Linked DNA regions of Homo sapiens. The protein of the gene in region 1 purifies or fractionates together with the protein of each later gene. This does not show direct contact. Each region holds a gene or a part of one and is shown in the gene's direction. Other genes may lie near its edges. The genes, in order: MAP4, SLTM, DYNC1I2, TPD52, PLEKHA5, WDR62 and MAP7D1.

Evidence for each region.
Region 2: the proteins of MAP4 (region 1) and SLTM purify together in Homo sapiens (affinity purification with mass spectrometry; one large-scale study listed by BioGRID and IntAct). This does not show direct contact.
Region 3: the proteins of MAP4 (region 1) and DYNC1I2 fractionate together in Homo sapiens (co-fractionation; one large-scale study listed by BioGRID). This does not show direct contact.
Region 4: the proteins of MAP4 (region 1) and TPD52 fractionate together in Homo sapiens (co-fractionation; one large-scale study listed by BioGRID). This does not show direct contact.
Region 5: the proteins of MAP4 (region 1) and PLEKHA5 purify together in Homo sapiens (affinity purification with mass spectrometry; one large-scale study listed by BioGRID and IntAct). This does not show direct contact.
Region 6: the proteins of MAP4 (region 1) and WDR62 purify together in Homo sapiens (affinity purification with mass spectrometry; one large-scale study listed by BioGRID and IntAct). This does not show direct contact.
Region 7: the proteins of MAP4 (region 1) and MAP7D1 purify together in Homo sapiens (affinity purification with mass spectrometry; one large-scale study listed by BioGRID and IntAct). This does not show direct contact.

What each region holds. Positions count from the first base shown.
Region 1 is NC_000003.12:47,908,417-47,911,916, reverse strand, and holds part of MAP4 (microtubule-associated protein 4), read left to right. Parts: coding exon 1-2,879; intron 2,880-3,500. UniProt on the Homo sapiens protein: Non-neuronal microtubule-associated protein. Promotes microtubule assembly.
Region 2 is NC_000015.10:58,888,680-58,892,179, reverse strand, and holds part of SLTM (SAFB-like transcription modulator), read left to right. Parts: intron 1-1,718; coding exon 1,719-1,899; intron 1,900-2,625; coding exon 2,626-2,750; intron 2,751-3,500. UniProt on the Homo sapiens protein: When overexpressed, acts as a general inhibitor of transcription that eventually leads to apoptosis.
Region 3 is NC_000002.12:171,686,147-171,690,268, forward strand, and holds the start of DYNC1I2 (cytoplasmic dynein 1 intermediate chain 2), read left to right. Parts: upstream 1-1,322; 5' UTR 1,323-1,481; intron 1,482-1,608; exon of another isoform or gene 1,609-1,727; intron 1,728-4,000; 5' UTR 4,001-4,009; coding exon 4,010-4,117; intron 4,118-4,122. UniProt on the Homo sapiens protein: Acts as one of several non-catalytic accessory components of the cytoplasmic dynein 1 complex that are thought to be involved in linking dynein to cargos and to adapter proteins that regulate dynein function.
Region 4 is NC_000008.11:80,165,065-80,168,564, reverse strand, and holds part of TPD52 (tumor protein D52), read left to right. Parts: intron 1-3,500.
Region 5 is NC_000012.12:19,373,817-19,376,900, forward strand, and holds the end of PLEKHA5 (pleckstrin homology domain-containing family A member 5), read left to right. Parts: intron 1-1,714; coding exon of another isoform or gene 1,715-1,749; 3' UTR 1,750-2,584; downstream 2,585-3,084.
Region 6 is NC_000019.10:36,099,897-36,102,752, forward strand, and holds part of WDR62 (WD repeat-containing protein 62), read left to right. Parts: intron 1-851; coding exon 852-979; intron 980-1,317; coding exon 1,318-1,421; intron 1,422-1,767; coding exon 1,768-1,878; intron 1,879-2,117; coding exon 2,118-2,255; intron 2,256-2,840; coding exon 2,841-2,856. UniProt on the Homo sapiens protein: Required for cerebral cortical development. Plays a role in neuronal proliferation and migration.
Region 7 is NC_000001.11:36,159,160-36,162,659, forward strand, and holds part of MAP7D1 (MAP7 domain-containing protein 1), read left to right. Parts: intron 1-3,500. UniProt on the Homo sapiens protein: Microtubule-stabilizing protein involved in the control of cell motility and neurite outgrowth. Facilitate microtubule stabilization through the maintenance of acetylated stable microtubules.

The sequences.
Region 1 (3,500 bases):
TTTAGTTAACTCCAGTGCAGCCAGACTGGTAGCTGAGAACTTTGTCTCAGAGAGTCTCAGAATTCCTTTATATCCTTCTGAAGAAGCCCCCAAAACTGCAATAAGTTCTCAGTCTAAGCTGAGAGTAGAGGAAGAGAGCAAAAGTAACAAGTCAGTACTACAAAACCAAGACAAGAAATTGCTGAAGCAACATGAATACAAACCACAGCCTGCACCCCACCTGAAGACTCCTGTAGATAAAAGCCAGTCAGTAGGCCCTCTCAATCTGAAAGGACCCCTAGCAGAAGTTTCTGCATACAATGTAGAAACCCCTTTGGATATCAGACTTAAAGAGGGTTGCTCTCCTTTCTTGGACCAAGAGGTTATGGGTGTAGTTTCAAAACCCACAGCAGCAAAAGAAATACCAAATTTGGTACCCACTTTGATAGCAAGTAATCCATTAGAATGTAATCTAAAAGAAGGGAATAATGAAAGTAAAATGACTAAACTGCAGAATGTCAAACTGAAGGAGTTTCCTGAAGGAGCTGAAGAGGATAAAGAACTAAAAAAGGAAGCTTTTCCCAACGAAAGACAAGAGATCAGCATCTTTACTTCTGAGCAGCTGCAGGGCCAAGTGTTGGTACAGGTCCCTGGGGTAGAGAATGAACCATTTAAGAGAATGGCAGGTGATGGCAAAAGCAGGAAGGGAAGGGGAAGTTCTGGGAAAATGAGAACAGATTCTGGGAAGGTAAAAGCAAAATCTGAGCTGCCATTTCTTCTGGACAGCCAGAAGGACGGAAGGGCTGTTCTCATACCGAGTGAGCCAGTCTCTAAAACTGAAGGAATGACTACTCAGGATAAGAGTGAGGAGCTGGGGCTGAATTCTTCAAAGCAACCAGGCACTAAGGCTGATCTCACGGAGGCAGTGGTGATGGGGGAGCCTAAAGAGATGACTCAGCCTAAGGTGGCAGGCACCATGCAGGCATTGATTCCTTTGGAAAGTGGATCAGGCATGACTCAGACTTCTGGTGTTAGCACAGAAACAGGAGATGTAGTCAAAGATATGGGTGTCAATAACCAGAGCAAGGAAGGAAGGTGTCCATGGAAGGATCATGAGGCAGCTCCCTGGATTTCTGAAAAGCCTAAAAAGAGAGGCAATGAAGGCAAAAGCAAAAAGTTTAAAAATAATTATTCCACACAGCCTGCTAGAATGGAGAGGAAGGAAGAAATCCTTAACCCACCTTTTGAAGGGAAGGATGGAGATACTGGTAGTATTCCCCATAAAAGCAAGGAAATAGGATTTACTTTCCCCAAAATGCATGATTCTTCGTTCTCACATACACCAGATACACCCACAGTGGAAGCAGTTGACAGGAAGGGTGGAAATTTTCAGGTTAATTTTGTTGAGCTTGGGACTCTTGGGGAAAACAAGATAAGCACAGTCAAGGCTTCTACTGTTACTGAACCACCTGCCAAGGTGACAGATGTGAGCTGCCAAGAGCAAATCCAGGGGGCAGGATTTGTTCCTTCAGTAGTATCTGAGGAGAATAAGACAGATGCAGCCAATAGATACACTGCAGTGGCTGACAAACCAAGTAAAAGGAGTAATGATGGAAAAAGTAAAAAGGTTAAAAATAGTTCTCCTGAGAAGCACATTCTGGAGAATAAGATAGATGCAACAAAAATACATGTTCCCATGGAAACCACAGGGGACCAGGGAATTGAAGGAATGGCCTATATGGACGAAAATAGAAATATTACATTTACCTGTCCCAGAACACCATCAGAGCTGATAAATAAATCATCTCCTCTAGAGGTTCTGGAATCAGCAGCCTGTGAAAAACTGCCCACTCCTACTCCTCAAGTAGTAAAGGAAGGTGATTCCTTTCCAGATACCTTGGCAAAAAATGGGCAAGAGATAGCCCCAGCCCAGATTTCCAAATCATTAATGGTAGATAACTACACCAAAGATGGAGTCCCAGGTCAAGAAAGACCCAAGGGTCCCTCTGCTGTTGTGCCCTCTACAAGCACAGGAGGAGTTGCTCTACCTATTACAACAGCCATAGAAACAGTTAACATTCATGGAGATCACTCTCTTAAGAATAAAGCTGAGCTTGCTGATTCCATGAAAAATGAAGCAGGGATCGATGAAGGGCATGTGATAGGAGAATCTGAGTCAGTGCACAGTGGTGCGTCTAAGCATTCAGTAGAGAAAGTCACAGAGCTAGCAAAAGGTCACCTCCTTCCTGGAGTGCCAGTAGAAGACCAGAGCCTACCAGGAGAGGCCAGAGCCCTAGAAGGATATGCAGATAGAGGTAATTTCCCAGCACATCCAGTGAATGAAGAGAAAGAGACTAAAGAAGGGTCTGTTGCAGTTCAGATTCCTGACTTACTGGAAGACAAAGCACAAAAGCTCAGTTTTTGTGAGGACCAAAATGCTCAAGATAGAAATTCCAAAGGTTCAGATAGTTTGAATAAGAAGGTAGATCTGACTCTTTTGTCTCCAAAAAGTGAAAATGATAAATTGAAAGAAATTAGTCTGGCTTGTAAAATCACGGAATTGGAAAGCGTTTCCTTGCCAACACCAGAAATCCAGTCAGATTTCTTACATAGCAAAGTCGAAGCTCCTCCTTCAGAGGTGGCGGATACGTTAGTAATAATGACTGCTTCCAAGGGTGTTCGACTCCCAGAACCCAAAGATAAGATTTTGGAGACACCTCAGAAAATGACAGAAAAATCTGAATCAAAGACACCAGGAGAAGGGAAAAAGGAAGATAAAAGCAGAATGGCAGAACCAATGAAAGGCTACATGAGACCCACCAAGTCCCGAGGACTTACTCCACTTTTGCCAAAGTCTACAATCCAGGAACAAGAGAGACATAAGCAACTGAAGTCCGCTGGTATGAACCTGCCATGGGGAAATGTGTGTGCTTGTGGCTTTTGAGTCAGCATCAGAAAGGCAAAGAGCTTGTGTCTTGGCTCCATCCAGACTCTAATCATCCTTGTTAATCATTGGTTTGTTGGCATGAAACCTATAACTGCTACGGTGTGTTTTCTGCAGCCAATGTGTTCCTTGTGTCCTGCTTGAGGAGGCTGGTAACTTGGTTGCATGCCTTTTTTACCCAGCACTGAACGTTGAATTTTAGGGGAAGTTGAATTTTCAATGAATTGTCTAACAAAAGACCTATCATCATCCATTTCTTAATTTTTTTAAAATTGTGCCTCCTATGTATCAAGTTTACAGCTAAATTTTAATCATTACTTGGTATAAGGATTCACAGGAGGAAAGAAAATATTTCATGTCTAGCTATGTGCATGAGATTTTTTTCAATTTATATGTAGCTTGTGCTGGTGGGACTAAATATCCAAACTGCTTTTAGGTTAAATGAAATCAGTCCACCTCCTTATGAGGAAATGGTGGCCTCAAACCAGCATTGGTAGGCACCGATTTATTTGTGTTTCTAGTAATGGGAAATGATCTCTCAATGATACAGATACATTTTTTGACCAGTTTGTTGCTT
Region 2 (3,500 bases), on another chromosome or scaffold:
TTCAAATGTTAAGCTGTCTTGTCCAGGGGTTACTTATCATGGGATTTCATCCATTCATTGACGACAGCGTTAGGAACTACCAGAGATACTTTTAGCAACTTAGATTATTCTGTACAATAATTGACACACAACTTTACTAAAAGGAAGTAATCCTTGTAGCACATAGAACCCATTTTCTCTTTTTTAAGATGAAGTCCAAATGTGCCTAGCTTCCTGTGTATTTAGTTGACAACAGATTGAGAGGAGAGTGGGATTGAGGAGCAACTAGACCAGTGATTCTCAAACCCTATGTGACCAAATTCCCTTTTATATTAAAAAAAGTTGCAATGCCTTTACTCTCCTGAAATGAAATTGATGTATAACATACTTAAGCTATACTAACAATTTCAAAAAAAGAAAAAAATGTAATGGCTTAACTATAATATAAAGGAGAAATAAAAGTAATTTATAATAAAAATATGTATTCCAGATATGAAGGTTTAGGCATGACTTAATGAAGTAGTCAGATGTTTGCATCCCTATTTAGACTCACTGAGAATGGGACAGCTTCAAATACAGACTGACGTTGTATGTCATTTAATATGTTGTATTGGTTAGTAAATACCAGAAGTAGTGTTGACATTATGACATGATTTCTGAAATGGTGAGCAACTCTTGGTAAAAGTCGCAAGAAAGTATAATTTTCCTTCTATTTATATGGAGTTGCATTATTGGAAATTCTAGATTATAGAAATAATATCAAAGCAAACAGTATTTATTAAAAATGGGGTTGAGTTCTAGACTGACATATTATTTTTGCTTAAGGTGTTTGGTTGTTTTTAATGGTGTGCATGTCCGTTGTGGCATCTGAAAGGTATGAGAGGTGTTGGATGGTTCTTGTTGTGTACGACTATCCTCACTATTCCATGCATCAATAAGATACTTAGATACCTTCATCCTCATACACTAAACACTAGTATCTGCCCCATGGTCATTGTGATAATTAAAAATATCCCATTGATTTCTGTAGAAATAGTACTGACCCATTGAGAACCACTGGGTTACTAGAGAAAGACATGCTGATGACAGAAAAGGATGCTGACTACCTTACAGTAAGAAAATAACATTAAAAGTCTAATACAATAACAATTCAGTTCAGTGAACAATTGAACTACCTCTGACTCAGAAAAGCATGTTACCTGGAGCCATCTATTATAGGATAGTAAACATTCCAAAATAGCCCTTAAGGACACCATTTTGTTATATGTAGTATTTGCTATTATTGATGTTCATTGTTATGATCCCAAATCATCAAAGTATGTACTTGTTTAAGGAGATACAATAGAATATATAATAGGGATTAGAGCTTTTTCCATCAAAAACAAGTGTTGGAAGTTGTAGTTTTGTAAATTTACATATGCAGATTACATCCTTCTAAAATGTCAATTAATTAATGGACTATTATAGTAATTTTTATTTAAACAGGAATCATCTAAGAGGCAACTACTCTATATTATAAAATTTAGCTGCTCAGTTGACAGTCTTATTTATAGATAAGTGAAAATATTGGGATCTGTTTAAAGTTTTACTTTGAATTCTCTTTCCAATTACATTAAAACTACTTAGATTGAGTTGAAATTTAAAATTGCCAACCTCAAGGAAAAATTCAAATTCAAAGCTATTCTCTTTCACACAGTGCTAGCATAATTTAAGTATTTCTAAATACTGATTTTTGGTAGACGAAGAGAGATTGCAGAGAGAGAGCGTCGAGAGCGAGAACGCATTAGAATAATTCGTGAACGGGAAGAACGGGAACGCTTACAGAGAGAGAGAGAGCGCCTAGAAATTGAAAGGCAAAAACTAGAGAGAGAGAGAATGGAACGCGAACGCTTGGAAAGGGAACGCATTCGTATTGAACAGGTGCAGTCAGAAAATCTTTTCATCTTAAATAACTCACCTTTTTCAGACTCTGTGATTTTAGCCCTAAAACTTGCTTTACTTGTTGTAAAGCGTCTATAGAATGAGTTTAGCTAAGGAGCTTTTAAGTGTCCCTGAAAGATAACAGTGAATTAGGTACTAGTTAAAAATAGAATTAGTAGTGACTTTGTTCTAGATAACTGGTAATAATTCTAGCTCTGCAATATCATGGCAGCCTAATAGTCTGAGCATAGGACTATGAGTCCAGAGTAGTTGTAATCCAGGCTCTGTCACTATCCCAGTCTTAGAAAATAATAACGATTTCCTTACATATTATAGTGGGAATGATTTCCCAAGGCTGGAAGGAAATAATGCCTCTCTTTGCAGAATTGCACCTCAGGGTTTTAAGGCACTTAGTCTCCATGCATATTAAGAATGCTATTTCTAATTCCCTTTAGGTGCTTTTGTTTTAGTCGAATGATTAAACTAAACTTGACCTTCCCAAATACTTGCCAACTTTTACCACCCAGTCCTTGTTATTTTTAATGTTGCAGAACAATAGCTACAGCCTAGATTATTGAAATCAAATTTAGGTGTCATAGGTTTGTGTTTTGCCTGGTCTTTGCTTATGATGGTTTCTTAGCAACAGGATTAAAACAAGGTTGCATGTATACTTATCTTATGTTTTCATTTTGCCTTGGTTGGTTCTTCATTCTGTGTTGTCTGAAGGAACGTCGTAAGGAAGCTGAACGGATTGCTCGAGAAAGAGAGGAACTCAGAAGGCAACAACAGCAGCTTCGTTATGAACAAGAAAAAAGGAATTCCTTGAAACGCCCACGTGATGTAGATCATAGGTAGTTACTCATTTTATTCCTTAACAGTTAACCTTGCTGTTTTATTCCCTTTAGGCTAAGACTAGAGAATTAGAAAGTACAGGCTCCCATCACTGGAATAAAAGTCATGATCAACAGGGATGGGAAGGATTACAGTACTGGGGTAGACCCAGTGCACTAGCAAGTGGGAACAGTCTGTGTTTCTTTCCCTGTCTACCTTTCTGATGCCAAATGTTTTTCATTATGACTGGAAATACATTGTCATAGTAGGCTTCAATAATAATTAAACAGATTTTGAACATTCTTAAAAAGGTAGTGCAGGTAGTATAGAAATGGAAGTCATAAACTTGAGATTGAAAGATAGATTCTATTGTGTGTTTGGATTCATACTTCATATAGATTTAAAAACATAAGTATGCCCATTTAATCTTCTTAACATAAATTCTATGAAACTGAGTTGATTGTGTAGAGAAATAGGTGGAATGAATGAACTGTGCTTCTGACTTACCACTCTAACGTTTCCAAAGTTAAGGATAACTGAAGAGGTTGTGTGAACTGGTTAGAATTTTATTATAAAGTGGTTTCAGGTATTTTATTTGTCTTTTCCATTTAATGGTATCATTTCTCCTGAATGCTAAATGTCTTTTCCATTTAATGGAAAAGACAGGCAGTTTTTCAACTATTTTCTCTCCTGTTAAATTCCTCTCACACTATTTGACTTTATGTAATTCAACAATTAAGTCTTTGCTAGTTTGTACTCCTGATGTGTTA
Region 3 (4,122 bases), on another chromosome or scaffold:
TCTCCCAGGCTGGAATGCAATTGTGTAATCTCAGCTCACTATAACCTCCGCCTCCTGGGCGCAAGCCATCCTCCTGCCTCAGCCTCGTGACTAGCTAGGACTACAGGCGCATGCCACACACCCTGCTAATTTTTCTATTTTTTGTAGAGACGGGGTTTCACCATGTTGCCCAGGCTGGTCTCTAAGTCCTGAGCTCAGGTGATCTGCCTGCCTCGGCCTCCCAAAGTGCTGGGATTACAGGTGTGAGCCACTGCGCCTGGTCCATTTTAGCTGTTACCACAACACCCATCACCATTGCTGGCACATGGTAGGCAATCAATAATAATTTTTTTTCAAATTAATACATGAAAACTATTAGGAAAGAAGTAAAAAAATAACATAGCTATAAAGCTCTTTGAATGTTAGGTTATTGGGAAAAGCTGTGGAAAGCCAAGGATTTTCTTTCTCAAATTTATTTTTAGAATATTTTTTTCTACACAAAAGACCACAGATAAGGCAGAGAAAGATAAGAAAAAGACCACAAGCCCAAGGACTTGGAATTTGAATCATAAAGGTTCATTCTAGACTTGGGCAATATCTAGAACTTCTAGAACAATCAGTTTTCTAGAACATAGAAAAGATATTACCTTGGTGTTAGCTTTAACTCCTGCCAAATAATGCTTTAAATTATTTAAACTTTAAAAAGGTGTGTCAATGTATACATTGCAGGTAAATTCATGTTCCAGTAACTTTTGTTTTCTTTGTATGTTAAAAATCTAACTGTGGAAAACATTCTAGCTTGGTTTGAGAGTCCAATAATACAAAATGCTTTATTTCCTAAAATTGTTTGAGAGAAAACCAAAATGCTACCACACTGCAACAAAATACTAAAGAATTATTTGCTATGTCAGTTGACATATTTTTATTTAGATTTTGCCTAAGATGCCACATGAAGCCTATATAAGACATTCTTTCCCTAAAACTTACATATGTATGTACATATATATATATAATGTTTTACATCCTAAACAGTCTACTTCACGTCTTCACCAAATGTGCAGCAGCGTGATTCACAGGTTCACCACTGGAAAATAGACCTTAAAATTCCGCCAATATTGGGTCAAAGATCTTACACTATAACACATACTACACTGTGGGCACGGATCAACAGACGAGAATACTTTATACAGAAGCTTCTCGACGGAAGAAGGCCTTGGAGTGGGAAATCTAAAGGAGGGGACACACTACATGTCCCAGCACACCTTGCGACGCCCAGCGACCACAATTCCCAGAACGCACTGCTCGTCGCACGCAGGTTTTCCTTGTTGCCGGGGTTTGTAGTTCTTCTCGATCGTGTCAGTTTGTAAGGCGAGGGCGGAAGTTGGATTCCTGGCCTGAGAATATTAGGCGTAGTTTTCCAGTTTTTGGCAAAGCGGAAATACTTAAGGCCCCTGGGTTGACTGGGTTCTTTGTTTTATCTACCGGCTTCTGCTTTACGACAGGTAAGTCACGGAGGGGCTACAATTCCTCGCAGCAGGGCCCCACCTTTTATTTCTGGGAGCGACCTCGTTCTGGTGAGGCTATTTGTCCCTAAGCTCTCGCCGTAGCAGCCGCCGCCCATCCCTCTTTGTGTGCTTTGGAAAGCCGCGGAGCTGGTGGTGGCTACAGTTGGTGTTGGGGGCTTAGGCGAGGGACGTTACCGGGAAGTTGCAGGCGGGAGGACTCTTCCCCATCCAGTCACCTGACAGGTGGGTTGACTGTTCTTCCCTCAAGGCCTCCCTGCCTGTGTTCCACGTCGCAACTCGAAGGGCGGCTTGGCAGTTCCTGCTGACATCCCCGCCCGGCCCAGCTTTGGGGAGGAAAGGCGGGGAGACCTGGGTGCGGTGACTCATTGCGGCCCGGCGAGAGGAGTCCACTCCTTTCCCTTCTCGACCCTCCAGAGGCGGCCTGGGGAGCCTTGAGGCTTGTCCGGCGCCCACTGGCTTCTTCCGGACGCCCTGCCGTGGACCGCGCCCTCTTGGCCGTGACCCCAGGGGAGAAAGTGATTCGTTTTCGCCTTGCCCCATTTTACAAATTAAGGCCATCTCTACTTGCCTTGATAGTGTCTCCCCTCACCTTATGTGTGATGGAAAGCCCCCGAACACGGAGGTTCTAGCACAAAACTCTAGAGACTCTCTTCTCTTGAGTTTTAAGAACGTGAACATGTCGGTCATGGAGGAAGGCTCTGGCTTCTGTGAGGATGAGAGGATTGGTCAGCTGTAGTTCAGCTGGTCAAGACTTTGTTGTTGGGCTTTAAAAATGCGCTTATTTTAATATCAATTAGTGTTGGTATATCTGTTTTACAGTTGACGTTGAACAAAATATAATGTGCCTAGCGTAGCATACAGTTACGTATGGAAGTTCTCTTCACCAGCCGTTTGTATGGAGCTGTTTAGAGGTGTAGAAAGAGTGGAATAAGAAACACGGTCTCTTGCTTTTAGTTTGTTCAAACAAATCTTGGAAGATATTGTGTATATATTTCAGGTCTGCTATGTCAACTTTTCATCCTTTTCGTATGCTTGAAAATTATCAATTCGCTTGCCAGTCTTAATGGAGTTTAGTAGCTGAAATTTCCTTTATCCACTTCTTAGTAGGTGAATTTCTCCTCTTGACTGACTTACCTTTGTTCAGATTTAACAATTGTGCTTTTTAAGAGATTTCCCCTAACCTCTGGAAATACAGTTTTCCAGAGGTTATTCTCCTAGTTTTCTTGATCTAAAGCATTTAATACTTCACTTGTACAGAGACATTGAAAGAGATTGATCATTAGGCAATAAGTCAATCATGTGGAGAAGGTAAGGAGTTCCTGGCTCCTGCCTTATGCTCAGCTGCTAGGCTACTTAAAAAAAAAAAATCCTAATTCATTATTTCTTCCTAAAACTCAAGCTGAAGTAGTGTTTATGCAATTGGTTTTTGAAGCTCAGATTGTAATTGTGTCTACCGTATCCATTATTCATTAGCCAGTGTCAATTGTAATGTTAAGGTCATTCTGCTGGATGTTGTGAAGGCAACAAAAATAACTAAAAAACAGTCCCTGATTTCAAGTACATTACAATCTAATAGGGAACATTTCAGGTATGTCCACAAATAATTGTACTAAAAGTGCCATCAGAGGTATACGTAAGGTGTTATTGTGGAGAAATACAGTCATATGATTTGATAGCTAATGATGGTAACTCCTGCGTTTTGCTTTAGTATTACTACAGCACTTTTAGAACTTACAGGAAAGTTCAGTTTGACCTATTGTTTTTTATCAAGTTTCTATGAATGCAATAGAATTGGTAATAGTTTTGATCTGTGTCATATAGCTTAAGAGCTTCTAAATGCCAAACCATGTCCTCTGTTTTAAGAGCCAGTTTTGACCTTTATCTTGGGTACCTAATATATTGTCATCAAAAACTTTGAGACATTGTGTTCAGTTTGTGTATGCGAACATTAAAGTGCTTACTATGGGCTAGCTACTATGCTCAGCTCTAGGTAATATTTATTATATATATTTGTTTATACATTTTTTAAGTCTTAGTAATAATATATATGCTTCCTTTATTTTATCTTTTAAAAGTTTATTTTTTAGAGACGCTCTGTTGCCCAAGCTGGAGTGCAGTGGCATGATCACGGCTCACTGCAGCCTTGACTTCCTGGGCTCCAGCAATCCTTCCAAGTAGTTGGGACTACAGGCACATGCCACCATGCCGCCTAATTTTTTATTTTTCTTGCCTTTTTTTTTTTTTTTTTTTTTTTTGTAGAGATGGGGTCTTGCTTTGTTGCCCAGGCTGGTCTCAAACTCATGGCCTGAAGCAGTTCTCCCACTTTAGCCTCCCAAAGTAAGCTACTGCCCAGCCCCATTATTTTAAAAGTAAGGTTTTTGTGCTTTTTTGAGATAGCATTGAACTATATGGCCTTTCGGGACAGTTCTCTTCTTGGAACACTAGTTTTTTCAACTGTGCTGCTTTTACTAACATAATGATTATATGTTTCTAAGGTCACAAACATGTCAGACAAAAGTGAATTAAAGGCTGAGTTGGAACGTAAGAAGCAGCGACTGGCCCAAATCAGAGAGGAAAAGAAGAGAAAAGAAGAAGAAAGGAAAAAAAAAGAAGTATG
Region 4 (3,500 bases), on another chromosome or scaffold:
GCTGAAATAAGGTTTATCAAACTCTGTGATTGTCTCCTGAATTGTGATTTTGGCAACATACTTAAAACCAAAGCAGAAAATTTTAGGATTTGTTGAACTTTTAATAGTTTTTAATGTACATGGAGTTTTCTTATATTTGTCCCTTAAAAAATCCCTAATGAAACTCTAGTTGTAAAATTAAATGCCCTACCTCTTGTCTTACATGCATTTATCTATTGAAAATCCCTCTTCCAACCTTCTTATGTGAAGTTATCAAAAAATCTGTTCTTGCTACTGATTGTACTTAACAGAGCTGTAAATTTTTAAAATAAACACTGAGTTTTCCTTATGTTTTCAACCACGAGTATTCTAATGCTCTGTAGTATCAGGCCCAGATTCTGTTGTTTTTCTACTTTCTCTCATACCTAGGGCTTGAATACAATACTCTGCTTACAGTGAGAGTTCAGTGAACATCAAATGATTTAAAATACGTTAAATTGCATCATGCCTTTCAAGAGTTTCCAAGCATTAAGCTCAGCGCAGCACATTTACTGTGTGTGGTATTTCCTACTTTGATAGAGCAGTGTTGCTAACTAGAGCATACATTGTGTAGAAAACCCTCCTGACTACCTTTTATGGAGCTGAATAAATATGTATACTTGAGTGCTCTCATGTTAGTCATAACCTTTAGTTTAGCACTGTTATATAGAAGTGACAGTCACGTAGCCCACTACACATTATACTAGTTTGAATTTAAACAAAGCAAAACAACTTTATAATTTTAAGGGGAAGAGGAATGGTTCCTGAGGCCAAAAAACTAGAGAGGAAAGGCTTCAAAAAAAGAATAACACAATAATATGTCACTATCATTTTAACATTGTAATTGTGCCTTAGAAATAAATAACAGAAATGTGGGGTATCATTTATTTAAAAATAAAGCAAATGTAGAGAATAATGGATAATAATTTTGAGGGTCTACTCCCAAGTCTCTGGGTGTGACCCACCCCATCCAGGCTGTTAATTTATTTGGTCAACAGTTTCGTGATTTCCATATGGTGCTGATGTCTTTGTTAGCTCTTCTTCACTTCCTGCATTTATTTTTATGTGGCAGGCTGCCTAGTCCCTAGGGGAATAGCTGAGTGGTAGGAGGGGTTGTGATCTTTTAGCAAGATTTCAAAACAGAATAATGTATGCATGTAATAAAAACAAATACGCTCACTCACAGTGCAAAACCAAAAAGAACACCCAAATCCCTGGAACTTCTGTGCTACTAAGTCTTTTGTTGTAGGCTAAGATTATTTTCCTTTTGGGGTTAATTATTTCTGCCTTAATTATTGACTGTTGTGAAATCTCTCTTCTGAGACATTCCCAAATTTTATTTAAACTAGTGGGTACCAGCTGTACTGAAACCATAATTTTAGCCATGTATTTTTATTAGAAAAATGTTTCCAGGGGATTAAGGAATTTTAATATTTAGTGGAAGTTTTAAAAAAGAATGTAAAAATGCCTTTTGGAACCTAAGAATAGTTGTCTATTTTAGAAAAATCAGAAATATTGATGGAGAAAAAAGAAAATTACCCATAATCCTGTGCGAGAATGAGAAATCATAGTTAGCATATTAATTTATACCTGTTCATGTATCTATGCTTTAAACAAATCACAATTTTATTATTATTTTTTTTAACAGTGTCTCGCTCTGCCACCCAGGGTGGAGTGCAGTGGCGTGATCTCGGCTCACTGCAACCTCTGCCTCCTGGGTTCAAGCAATTCTCCTGTCTCAGCCTCCCAAGTAGCTGGGACTACAGGCGCATGCCACGACACCCAGCTAATTTTTTTGTATTTTTAGTAGAGATGGGGTTTCATCATGTTGGTCAGGCTGGTCTCGAACTCCTGACCTCAGGTGATCTGCCCTCATTGGCCTCCCAAAGTGCTGGGATTACAGGCGTGAGCCACTGTGCCCGGCCAACAAATCACAAAATTTCTTATTGAATATTGCATTTTATAACTTGCCCTTTTAAAAAAACCCTAAATGTATTTAAAAAATACACTTTAATGGCCGCATGTGGTGGCTCATGCCTGTAATCTCAGCACTTTGGGAGGCCAAGGCGGGCGGATCACCTGAGGTCGGGAGTTGGAGACCCGCCTGACCAACATGGAGAAACCCTGTCTCTACTAAAAATACAAAATTAGCCGGGTGTGGTGGCATATGCCTGTAATCCCAGCTACTAGGGAAGCTGAGGCGGGAGAATCGCTTCAACCTGGGAGGCGGAGGTTGCAGTGAGTCTCTCTCTCTTGCCCAGGCTGGAGTGCAATGGCACCAATTTGGCTCACTGCAACCTCCACCTCCTGGGTTCGAGTGATTCTCCTGCCTCAGCCTCTTGAGTAGCTGTGACTACAGGCGTGTGCCTCCACGCCATAATTTTTCTATTTTTGTAGAGATGGGTTTCATCATGTAGTCCAGGCTGGTCTCGAACTCCTGGCCTCAAGTGATCCTCCCGCCTCAGCCTCCCAAAGTGCTGAGATTACAGGTGTGAGCCACTGCGCCTGGCCTAGAGCAGCTCCATTTTTAATGGCCATTTGTATGTATTTATTTATAGATGTAACATTTTATATACTGTTATAGACAATATTTAACTTGTTCCCTGTTGATGAACATTTACATTTTGCCTTGTAGGGGAGGAAAAATTTCTCCCTACCCTTTTAGGGTTTCTGGCGAGGCCTAGGAATTAAACCAACATGAGATAGATTAACAGGAGAAAAGCATGCAAATTTTATTTAGTGCTTTTTATGTATTACATACCTTTTACCCTCACAAGAGGAATGAAGACTCAAGGAAGTGGCTTGGCCTGATCGATTATATACTAGGTCAAAAAAAGAGTGGCAGTTGTGGAAAAGTAACTAGGAAGGTAAGGTTTAGTTTAGCAAGGTTTCTTTATGCAGATTTCTTTGGGCTTGGACTTCCTGTGATAAGAATGTTTCTTTCTTCCTGGTAGAGGGAGGACATCTTTCATATGGGAGCTTCATCTTCTGCTTTCAGGAAAAAGAGAGGAGGTTTGGGTGCCCTTCTTAACACCTGCTGTTTTTCAAGTGCCTTTAGCCCAAAATAATCAGCATGCTAAAGTGGAATGTTTTGGGATGCTGTGTCCTGAACTCCTTCACCCTGATATTTTGCTGTTAAAACAAAGCTGCAGCAAATGTATGTGTATGCAAGTCATTCCATAAAAATGCCAGTGTGTCTGTAGGAAGAATTCTTAGAAGAATGTGGCTGTTCAATTTTGATAGTGCCAAATTCTGCTCCATAGAAGTGGTGCCAGTTATACTTCCACCAGCATGTGCGAGCGTTTGCTTTCCCTTGCCATGTGGCCAGGATGTTGCCACACTTTTCCATTGTTGCTTGTCTTATAGGGGAAAAATGGTTTCTCAGTATAAGTCTTACTATATATATTTAATATAAAGGTAGTTTACTTCTTTTGATATGTTTACAATCTACATGGCATTTTCTGTGAAATATCTGGCCATAT
Region 5 (3,084 bases), on another chromosome or scaffold:
TAATATTTTGATTCAATAAACAGATTATGACTGTACACATATCCTTCCAATAATAAAGGATATTCAGAGTTAAAACTCAAGTATATTTCCAGGTTCCTTAAATTGTTATAGGATTTTATTTTGTTTTCTTCTTATTCCAAGAGCAGTGGCATACTGTAATGAGGTATGATTATTGTCGGATATTTTCTAGTCTCATGGTATGCAACTACCACAAATAACTAAAGGCATGAAAACTTGTATTATTTCATATCTTCCTATTATGCATATGCCATCTTTCTGAACTAGTGGTTTTGGCAGGATTTAGGAAACCTTTACAAATGACACTACGATGTAGGCAGCTCAATAATTATTACGTATTTTAGTGGAGTTATGCAAATGTTTGCTCATTTTGTTGATCTTTTGGATTCAGCTACGTTTGGTACTTTTTTTTTTTTTTTGCAGTTGCAAGATTTAATAGAGTGAAAACAGAGCTCCCCTAAAATGGGAGGGGACCCAAAGGGGGTTGCCGTTGCCAGCGGTACATTTTTTATTCTGTATTGCTATTTATAATCACATTATGTTGGCCGGGCACAGTGGCTCACGGCTGTAATCCCAACACTTTGTGAGGCCGAGGCGGGCGGAACACAAGGTCAGGAGATCGAGACCATTGTGGCCAACATGGTTGAAACTCCGTCTCTACTGAAAATACAAAAATTAGCTGGGCGTGGTGGCATGCACCTGTAGTCTCAGCTACTCTAGAGGCTGAGGCAGGAAAATCACTTGAACCCGGGAGGTGGAGGTTGCAGTGAGCCAAGATTGCGCCACTGCACTCCAGCCTGGGCGACAGAGCGAGACTCAGTCTCAAAAATAATAAGAAGGCCAGGTGCAGTGGCTCACACCTGGAATCCTAGCACTTTGGGAGGCCGAGGCGGGCGGATTGCCTGAGTTCAGGAGTTTGAGACCAGCCTGGGCAACACGGTGAAACCCCGTCTCTACTAAAATACAAAAAATTAGCTGGATGTGGTGATGTGCACCTGTAGTCCCAGCTACTCAGGAGGCTGAGGCAGGAGAATTGTTGGAACCCAGGAGGCAGAGGTTGCAGTGAACTGAGATCGTGCCACTGCACTCCACCCTGGGCAACAGAGCAAGACTCCGTCTCCAAAATGATGATAATAATAATAATAATGAAGAGAAGGAGGAGGAGGAGGAAGGAAGAAGAATTGCATTACATTATGTTTCCTTGTGGGGCCGGGTATAGTGGCTCATGCCTGTAATCCTAGCACTTTGGGAGGCCAAGGCAGTCAGATCAGTTGAGGCCAGGGGTTCGAGACCAGCCTGGCCAACATGGTGAAACCCCGTCTCTACTAAAAATACAAAAATTAGCCAGGCATGGTGATATGTGCCTGTAATCCCAGCTAGTTGGGAGACTGAGGCAGGAGAATCGCTTGAACCCAGGACGCAGAGGTTGCAGAGAGCCGGGATCATACCACTGCACCCCAGCCTAGGCGATAGTGATACCCTGTCTCAAAAAAAAAAAATTGCATTATGTTTCTTTGCTTTGTGAATTAAGCTATGGAAATGAAGAAAAATATCCTTTGATGTATTGTATTTTAGGATTTTCATGGCCATGCTTGTCAGTTCTGTTGTTACAGAATGTCACCCTTAGTTACTTTGGGAAATGGTAATTAATTAACGTTGCAGGTGTCAAAGTAATTTCCTCTCTCTTATTTTTCAGCTATACTGACTTCTGTTGAAACCATTCAAAGCTAAAGACATGGACCTTCAGCAGTGTAAGAAGATATTGTACAGTATATTTTAAATCTATGAAATTCATAGTTCTGATGCTTTTGGTCACAGAGCATCATTTTATCACTTCTGGAAAATGTTTATTCCAAAACAGCTTTAATGGCCCATATGTACACTTCGTAATCTCAAGGTTATTATTCTGACACCAGCTTGCTGCTATGATTTCAGAGCACATAAGTAAAGGTGCTTTTTAATGTGCAGTCTATTTCCAGAGCTTACTTAGTTGCTGATTTCCAGATTTCGATGTTTCTTAAGTCTAGGTGAATTTATATATATATTTTTTTGCTTTTCATTTTCTAAAGTTAGTTATTATTTCCATTGAAGCTTGTTTTCTTTTTTTTCTTCCCATTTTAGCTACTGCAGTGCTTTTGTTTCACACTTGATTTGTAAAAATTTTATATATATGTATTTAAAATGTGCCATTTTATTGCTAAGTGAAGTATGTCCTGTTTTCTGCTATAATTCTTTCTCGGTCAGATTGCAATGTCAGCAGTTACTGCCACACTCCTGTCAGCTTAAACACAAATGTTACTGCTTATCTTTTCTTAAAAAAAAAAAAAACAAAGTGTAGGTATTTTGAAGTACTGGGCTTATATTTCATTGGAATACATGTGTACAGCAATAAGCAGGTTTCCAAATCCGGTACTTAGTTTGTGTACAAATGTAATTATGTTCATTGTGTATATATTATACAATGAGCACATGTAATGTATTAAAGGCTACTTACTATTGTTTAAATGCAAATGTTCATATCTCATTTCTTTTTTTATCATGTTAAATAAATGTTGATGTTCTTAAATCAGTGTTAGAATTTTTGTTCTTTCCATCCAAAATTGAAAGTCTTAAGACTCAAGAGACCTCTAGAAGAAAAGGTACTCTGTTAATTTTATAATCCTAGACAACATCTTAAAAGATCCTTGTCGGTCCAACCCTCCCATGTCAAAGTTGAGGACCTTGAGGCTCAAAGAGATCAATTGAGTTGGCCACAATTTAATGACAGAATTTTGACCAGACTATAGTTTTTTCTGACTTTTTCTCTAAGTACATTACATTAGCTCATTACCACTAGAGGAGTTTAGTTTTGTGAAGTCTTTTACCACGTTTCTATTTGCTTCCATGTTTCAGAAAGTAACTTCAAGCATCAGTAGTCCTGCTCTGTTTAGGGATTGGACTTTGAGAGAGGTGTGTAAGGCAGCTGTTTGTCTGACATGGGTAGCTAGAAACCGTTTCATCGTAAGTAGGACCCTCAGAGATCATTTTCTCTTACAATACATTCTTTGCAGATGTTCACGCTCTTCA
Region 6 (2,856 bases), on another chromosome or scaffold:
TTCCTGTTGTGTGACCTGGAGTAAGAGGCTTACCTCTTTGGGCTTCAGTCTTCTAAAAAGTAGTCATAATGGGGTCAGGGGCAGTGGCTAACACCTGTAATCCCAGCATTTGGGGAGGCCAAGGCAGGAGGATTACTTAACGATCACTTGAGGAGTTCAAGGCCAGCCTAGGCAACGTAGCAAGATCCCACCTCTACAAAAATATTTTTTAAATTTTTTTGTTTGTTTTGTTTTTAAATGGTAATAACAATCTCTTCTGCCCCAGAGGGCTTTTACAGGAATCCATGCTTAAGTATAGGGCCTGGGCTCTTAGAGGTGCCCGTGCAACTTTAGCTCTTTCTCTACTATTTTCCAAACAAAATTCATTTTTATCCTATCCTATAATTTGTCATCTTCATTGTGGTATAATATACATCCAGTAACATGCACAGATTTTAGGTATACAGCTTGATGAACTATCTGTGTAATTCACGTGTGTCCACTACCCTGGGCAAAATCTGGAGTGTTTTCTACCTCATAGAAACCCCCTTCTGCCCTTCCCAGTCAGGTCCCCGCACCAGGATAACCAGTGTTCTGACCTCTCACCAAGGACTGGGTTTCCTATTCTTGAACTTGATATAAATAGACACGTAGAGGGTTGGGCCTCCTATTTTTGGTGCCACACCTCTTCCTCATCTGTAAAGGGACTGATAATGCAGGGGCAGACCAGGACAAGCTGGTTGCGAGTGGAGGGCATGGCACAGGCCCTGGTTCACAGCCTCCAGCAGTGGGGCTGCTGGCATGGTTCCTGGCGCACTGTTGGTGGCCCCAGCCATGCCTGCCTCAGAATGGCTGTGCTGTCTTCCCCATAGTCAGAGAGTCCCCAGGAAGCTGGCCGCGGGCACCCCTCCTTCCTGCCCCAGCAGAAGGAATCATCTGAGGCCAGTGAGCTCATCCTCTACTCTCTGGAGGCAGAAGTGACAGTCACAGGGACAGACAGGTGGGTGTCCTTTCCACCAAGGGAGCCTTAGTTGGAGGAACCCCCAGCTGATAGCTGCATCCTGGAAGAAGTGCTCTCTGCCTTCCCAGTGGGCTTGTGGGAGTGGGGACAGTTGAGGCCTGGATGGGGCAGGAGCCCAGCCTTAGTTCCCTGGTTCCAGGTGGGGTACAGGAGGGCCTGACCTGGGGGAAGGAGGGGGCATTTGGAGGAGGCGGGGAGGCTGTCGCAGTGCTCCTGCAGGAGCAGCGGGTACAGGTGCCTAGGGGCTCCGGGTGGGGCTAGCTGTTGAGTCTCCAGCTGAAGTCCTTGTTCCCTCTCTGCCCCCACTGGCACTGCAGCCAGTATTGCAGGAAGGAGGTGGAGGCCGGGCCTGGAGACCAGCAGGGCGACTCCTACCTCAGGGTGTCCTCCGACAGCCCAAAGGACCAGAGCCCGCCTGAGGGTGAGTGCAGGGCAGGCAGGGACCCTGTGACAGTCTGTGCGTTCAGCCAAGCCCCTTTCTGGGCACCGATGGTGACTTTGACCCAGTACTGAAGCTCAGAGTCTGTCGAGGAAGACACATGTGGTCCCTGCTGCTGCCTGAGGATTCTGGGCCCAGCTGCCTACAGCTGAGAGCCCAGCTCTGCCACCTCCTTGATGTGGAACTTCCCTTATTCATAAAATGGGGGGCAGCTGCTCTTACCATCCCTCCTCCAGATGGGGAAACTGAGCCCAGGGAAGGGTAGCCCTGGCCCTGGCTCACCAGAATGGTCAGGCTGTGGGCTCCTGACCCCGACTCTGTCCTTCAGACTCGGGGGAGTCAGAGGCCGACCTGGAGTGCAGCTTCGCAGCCATCCACTCCCCAGCTCCGCCTCCTGACCCTGCCCCTCGGTTTGCCACGTCGCTGCCCCATTTCCCAGGTAAGCAGGGGCCAGACACGCAGGGGACTCGCTGCTCGGGCCTGGCTTAGGGCCAGTCACAATGTCTAAGCACAGGCCCTGCACTTGGAGCCCACTGAGCCTGGAAGACGGGGATCCCTGCTTCTCAGCCTGCGGGCAACAGGGCAGGGATGGGTGGGGCCCGCTTTCTCCATTTCAGGTGGCGTCTGCTGTGACTCATGGTGTTGGCTCCTCTTGTCCCTCCCCTCCTTCCCTGTCAGGATGCGCAGGTCCCACAGAAGATGAGCTGTCCCTGCCCGAGGGACCCAGCGTCCCCAGCAGCTCCCTACCCCAGACTCCGGAGCAGGAGAAGTTCCTCCGCCACCACTTTGAGACACTGACTGAGTCCCCCTGCAGAGGTAGGGCCCTGCCTCACCCACACCTGCCGAGGCCGTCTGTGCAGCCTGGGCACAGCATTGGCGTCCCTGGAGTTGGCTCCCCAGCAGGGCCAGGAGGGTGAGTGGAGAGCAACTGCTTCGTTTTTTTTGAGACGGAGTCTCGCTCTGTTGCCAGGCTGGAGTGCGGTGGCCCAATCTTGGCTCACTGCAACCTCCGACTCCCTGGTTCAAGCAATTCTCCTGCCTCAGCCTCCTGAGTAGCTGGGATTATAGGCATCCACAACCACGCCCTGCTAATTTTTTGTATTTTTAGTAGAGATGAGGTTTCACCATGTTGGCCAGACTGGTCTCAAACTCCTGCCTCAGATGATCTGCCCGCCTTGGCCTCCCAAAGTGCTGGGATTACAGGCGTGAGCCACCGTGCCCGGCCCACTGCTTCACTCTTGACCTGAGCCTCACGATGCCTCCTCACCCACTGCCCCTGCTCGTACCCTGTGTCTGTACATAAGGGTTTCTGGGGAGTGCCCCGCTGGGCTGTGGGCTGGCCTAGGGCCAGGGCTGCTCGGCGGGAAGGGTTATGAGGGTCCCCTCGGGATCTTCCCCTAGAGCTCTTCCCCGCAGC
Region 7 (3,500 bases), on another chromosome or scaffold:
CGATTCTCTTGCCTCAGCCTCCCGAGTAGCTGGGATTACAGGCGCCTGCCACCGCGCCCGGCTAATTTTTGTATTTTTAGTAGAGACAGGGTTTTGCCACATTGGCCGGGCTGGTCTCGAACTCCTGACCTCGTGATCTTCCCACCTTGGCCTCCCAAAGCGCTGGGATTACAGGCGTGAGCCACCACCCCCAGCCTAGCTATTTGTTTTTTGTCATTATTTTTAATTCCGTCAGAAGCCTGAGATGTGATTGATTAGAATTGTAGGAGGTAAGTATAGGACAAGAAGGCAGCGGAGAGGGGAGTTCTAGGCAGACATGAGCTAGGGTGTATCCAGGGAACGGAGGGGCCCCATACCTGAAGTGGAACAGTGGGAACAGGAGAGAAGACCCAAGAAACAGGTGCAACCGGCTATCCAGCACACCCATGCTGATGCCCCACCTTATGCCAGCTCGGTGTAGTCTATGTGGACGGCAGAGAAGTGAATCAGACGGAGTTTTGACTCTTGGGGAGCTCTTAACGCGGCGAGGAAGGCAGATGTGTTCACTGCAGGGAAACCAGGTATAATGGTGTTAGTGTGCAGTGGGCTGTGCTTGTGGAAGGCTTCACGGAGGAGGCAGCATTTGAGGTGGATCTGAAAGGATGAGTAGACGTTGGTGAGACTGGCGCAGTGGGCTGTGGCCATACATCCAGCAGCCAGCTGGCTGGCACCTCCCAATGACAGCTTCCTAGTCCCTTCCTGGGCTGGTGGGCCCAATAATGAGGCCTCTAATGAGCCCCTAATGTGCAGTCACGCATATGCAAATGAGGTGGAAGGGATACTAGGCCAGCTCAGGTCCCCTTTCCTAACATGATAGTGGGGAAGGGCTGAGGGAAGGGACTGAAAGCTGGGCCCAGACTAGAATGGCCATACTTGAGGGCCATCAGGTCAGGTCTCAGGTCTGACCCAGGCTGGAAGTTAGGCCACAGGGCAGCTGGGACCCATGTCCTTAGGTCCCTGCTGGGCCTTGGGGCTAGTGAGGGAGCCAACTAGCCAGACCCAGATAATGCAGCTTTGTTGGCTGGTGGTATCTCTGCCTGGCACCCAGGGGCACAGCCTTCAGTGTTTCCTCCACCACTTCTCAGCTGCAGCTCTGCCCTGAAGGGAGCAGAGAGCCTGGGAGGGTGTAGGGAACATGGTACTGCTGCCCTTACTAGCGCTCCTCAGCAGTTGTAAGAGATGATGTGAGCCAGGTAGAGACTCCCCGGTGAACCAAGTTATTTCCCATTAATTATCTCTGACTTATTATCTCCTATTCATTAAGGGCCTTCTCTGTGCCAGGCACAATGCTCAGCATGTCACGGGCATTGTCTCATTTGTTCCTCACCACAGTCTCATGAGTAGGGACTAGCATTATCCCCATTTTACAGATGAGGCTCAGAGAGATGAAATCACTTACCTAAAGTCACACAGCTAGCAACTGGCAGAGGCAGGATTTGAACTCAAATCTGTCTGACTCTGAAGTCTGTGCCCTAAACCTCTAAGCTGAATTATCATGGCTAAGCTATCCAGTGACAAGGTCTGGCCTGCTTCCCTCCCGTGACTGGCCTGTGTGGGCATCTTGGTCTTGGGGACCCCATAATCTTTTCCCTGGCTGGCAGAGGTAGCCCCAGCAGAGCCCAGGGTCCTCTGGGAAGCCTGCCAGGTTGGAGCCTAAGCAGTTGAACCAGGAGGAAGGCCCCGGACCCAGGTGGTGGTAATAGTCCAGCTGGGGGGGCATCTCCAGGCCTTGGCCTGAGGTTGGGCCTCTGCCTTCAGCATCTGGGCAACAGCCTGGGCAGCCCTGCTGGGGCTGAGGGAGGGATGTGGTGGGGCCCAGGCTGCGGGATGGGGTCATTTCCTGCCGCCTAAAATAACAGGAAGTGGGTGCTCCTGATTGGAGGCTGGGAACAATGGCCGCCAGCCGGGCCAGAGAGCTCCTTCAGATCTGTAGTCTCAGTCGGGTTCCCGGCTTTATCACCCACAGAAGCCGGTGGCCTGGTCCCAGTGCCCCACTGCCCAACTGCTGGAGCACGCTGCCCTCTCCTAGGGCACTCCCTCTCGGAGCCGGCTTAGCTCTGTCCAGGCCAGGGATAATGCTGCCCCCTAAGGGTCCCTCCTCTCCCGGCCCCACAATTAGGCATTCCCCAGAGTTTGCCCTTTCTACTGACCTCCTATTCTCCCAGCCCAGATCTCTCCAGGAGAGGGAACCCAGGAGGCTGTCCCCACTGGGATGCAGGCAGGGTAAAGACCGTCATGCTGATTGGGTCCAAACCCCAGCTTTGCTACTCACTAGCTGTGGAGCTTAAGTAAGTGTCTTAATCTCTGAACCTGTTTCCTCGTTTGTAAAATGGGGTAATAATATCTACCTCATAGGATTATGGCAAAGGTTAAATGAACTAATGAGTTTAATGTGTTTAGCTGTGCCTGACAAAAGCATTAGCTGTTGCTCCTGTTAATCGGACTTTCTCTGGGCCTAGGGAAATAATTTGCTCAGAAGGAGCAGAAGTGACCTGGATGACGCTGTATAAATATTCCGGGGACATTGTGTCTCTGTGTGCTGTGTGTGTCTCTGAGGCTTTGTCTGTTTCTTAGAGGAGGTACCTGGCCCCGTACTCTGTGGGTACATCTGTGTGTCTCAGATATGTGTAGAGTTTTGAATCCCAGTAAGTCTGTTTCCTCTGCATGTGTGTGTGTGTATGTGTGTGTGTGTGTGTGTGTGTGTGTGTGTGTGAGAGAGAGAGGAGAATATGTCTTGTCTCTCGCCATTGTGCAGGCCCTGTTTACATTGTCTGGTGTCTGTCTCTGTTGTGTGCACGTCTGTCTCCCATGTGTCTCTGCCCTCTGCCTGCCTCTGTCTTCGCCTGCTCTAGTGTTGTCACCTAGGAATCTGCAGTGAGGGCCAGGAGGGCTCTTGCTAGAGGTGCTGATCTCTGTTCTGTCTTCTCTCGGCCTCGTGCCTCTGCCTCTCCCATGCTTCCTGCCTGAGGTGCTGTCTGTGCACCCCCCACGCCACAACCAGCCCTCACCCAGGCACTCCCTCTCGCTGCCCCTGGAGGTGGGCTGTTCTCCCCTACCTCACTTCCCGCCTCTTGGGAGCCAGCCTGGGCAGGAGCCTGCCTTCCCTACATTCCTGTGCTCTGAGCTCAGTGCCTGCTTGCCCCACCTGCACCCTTCACTTTTGTGGGGGAAGTCTCCCTGGGGGAACCACGGAATCACTTCCTTCTTCAGAGAACACGCAGGAGCTTCAGGGCGGGGTAATGTGACTGCCTACCAGAAACAGCATGACATAAGGGTTTTAAGGGTTTTGTCATCAGACAACTCTGGATTCAAATCCTACCTCTGACACTGGCATGAACAATCCACTTAATCTGTCTGAGTAAATTCTCTCACCTGTGAAATGGGGGCCATCATAGAACTTTCCTTTTAGGATTGTCATCAGGATCAAATGGGATAGGGAAAGTGCTTGGTTTATGTTAGAG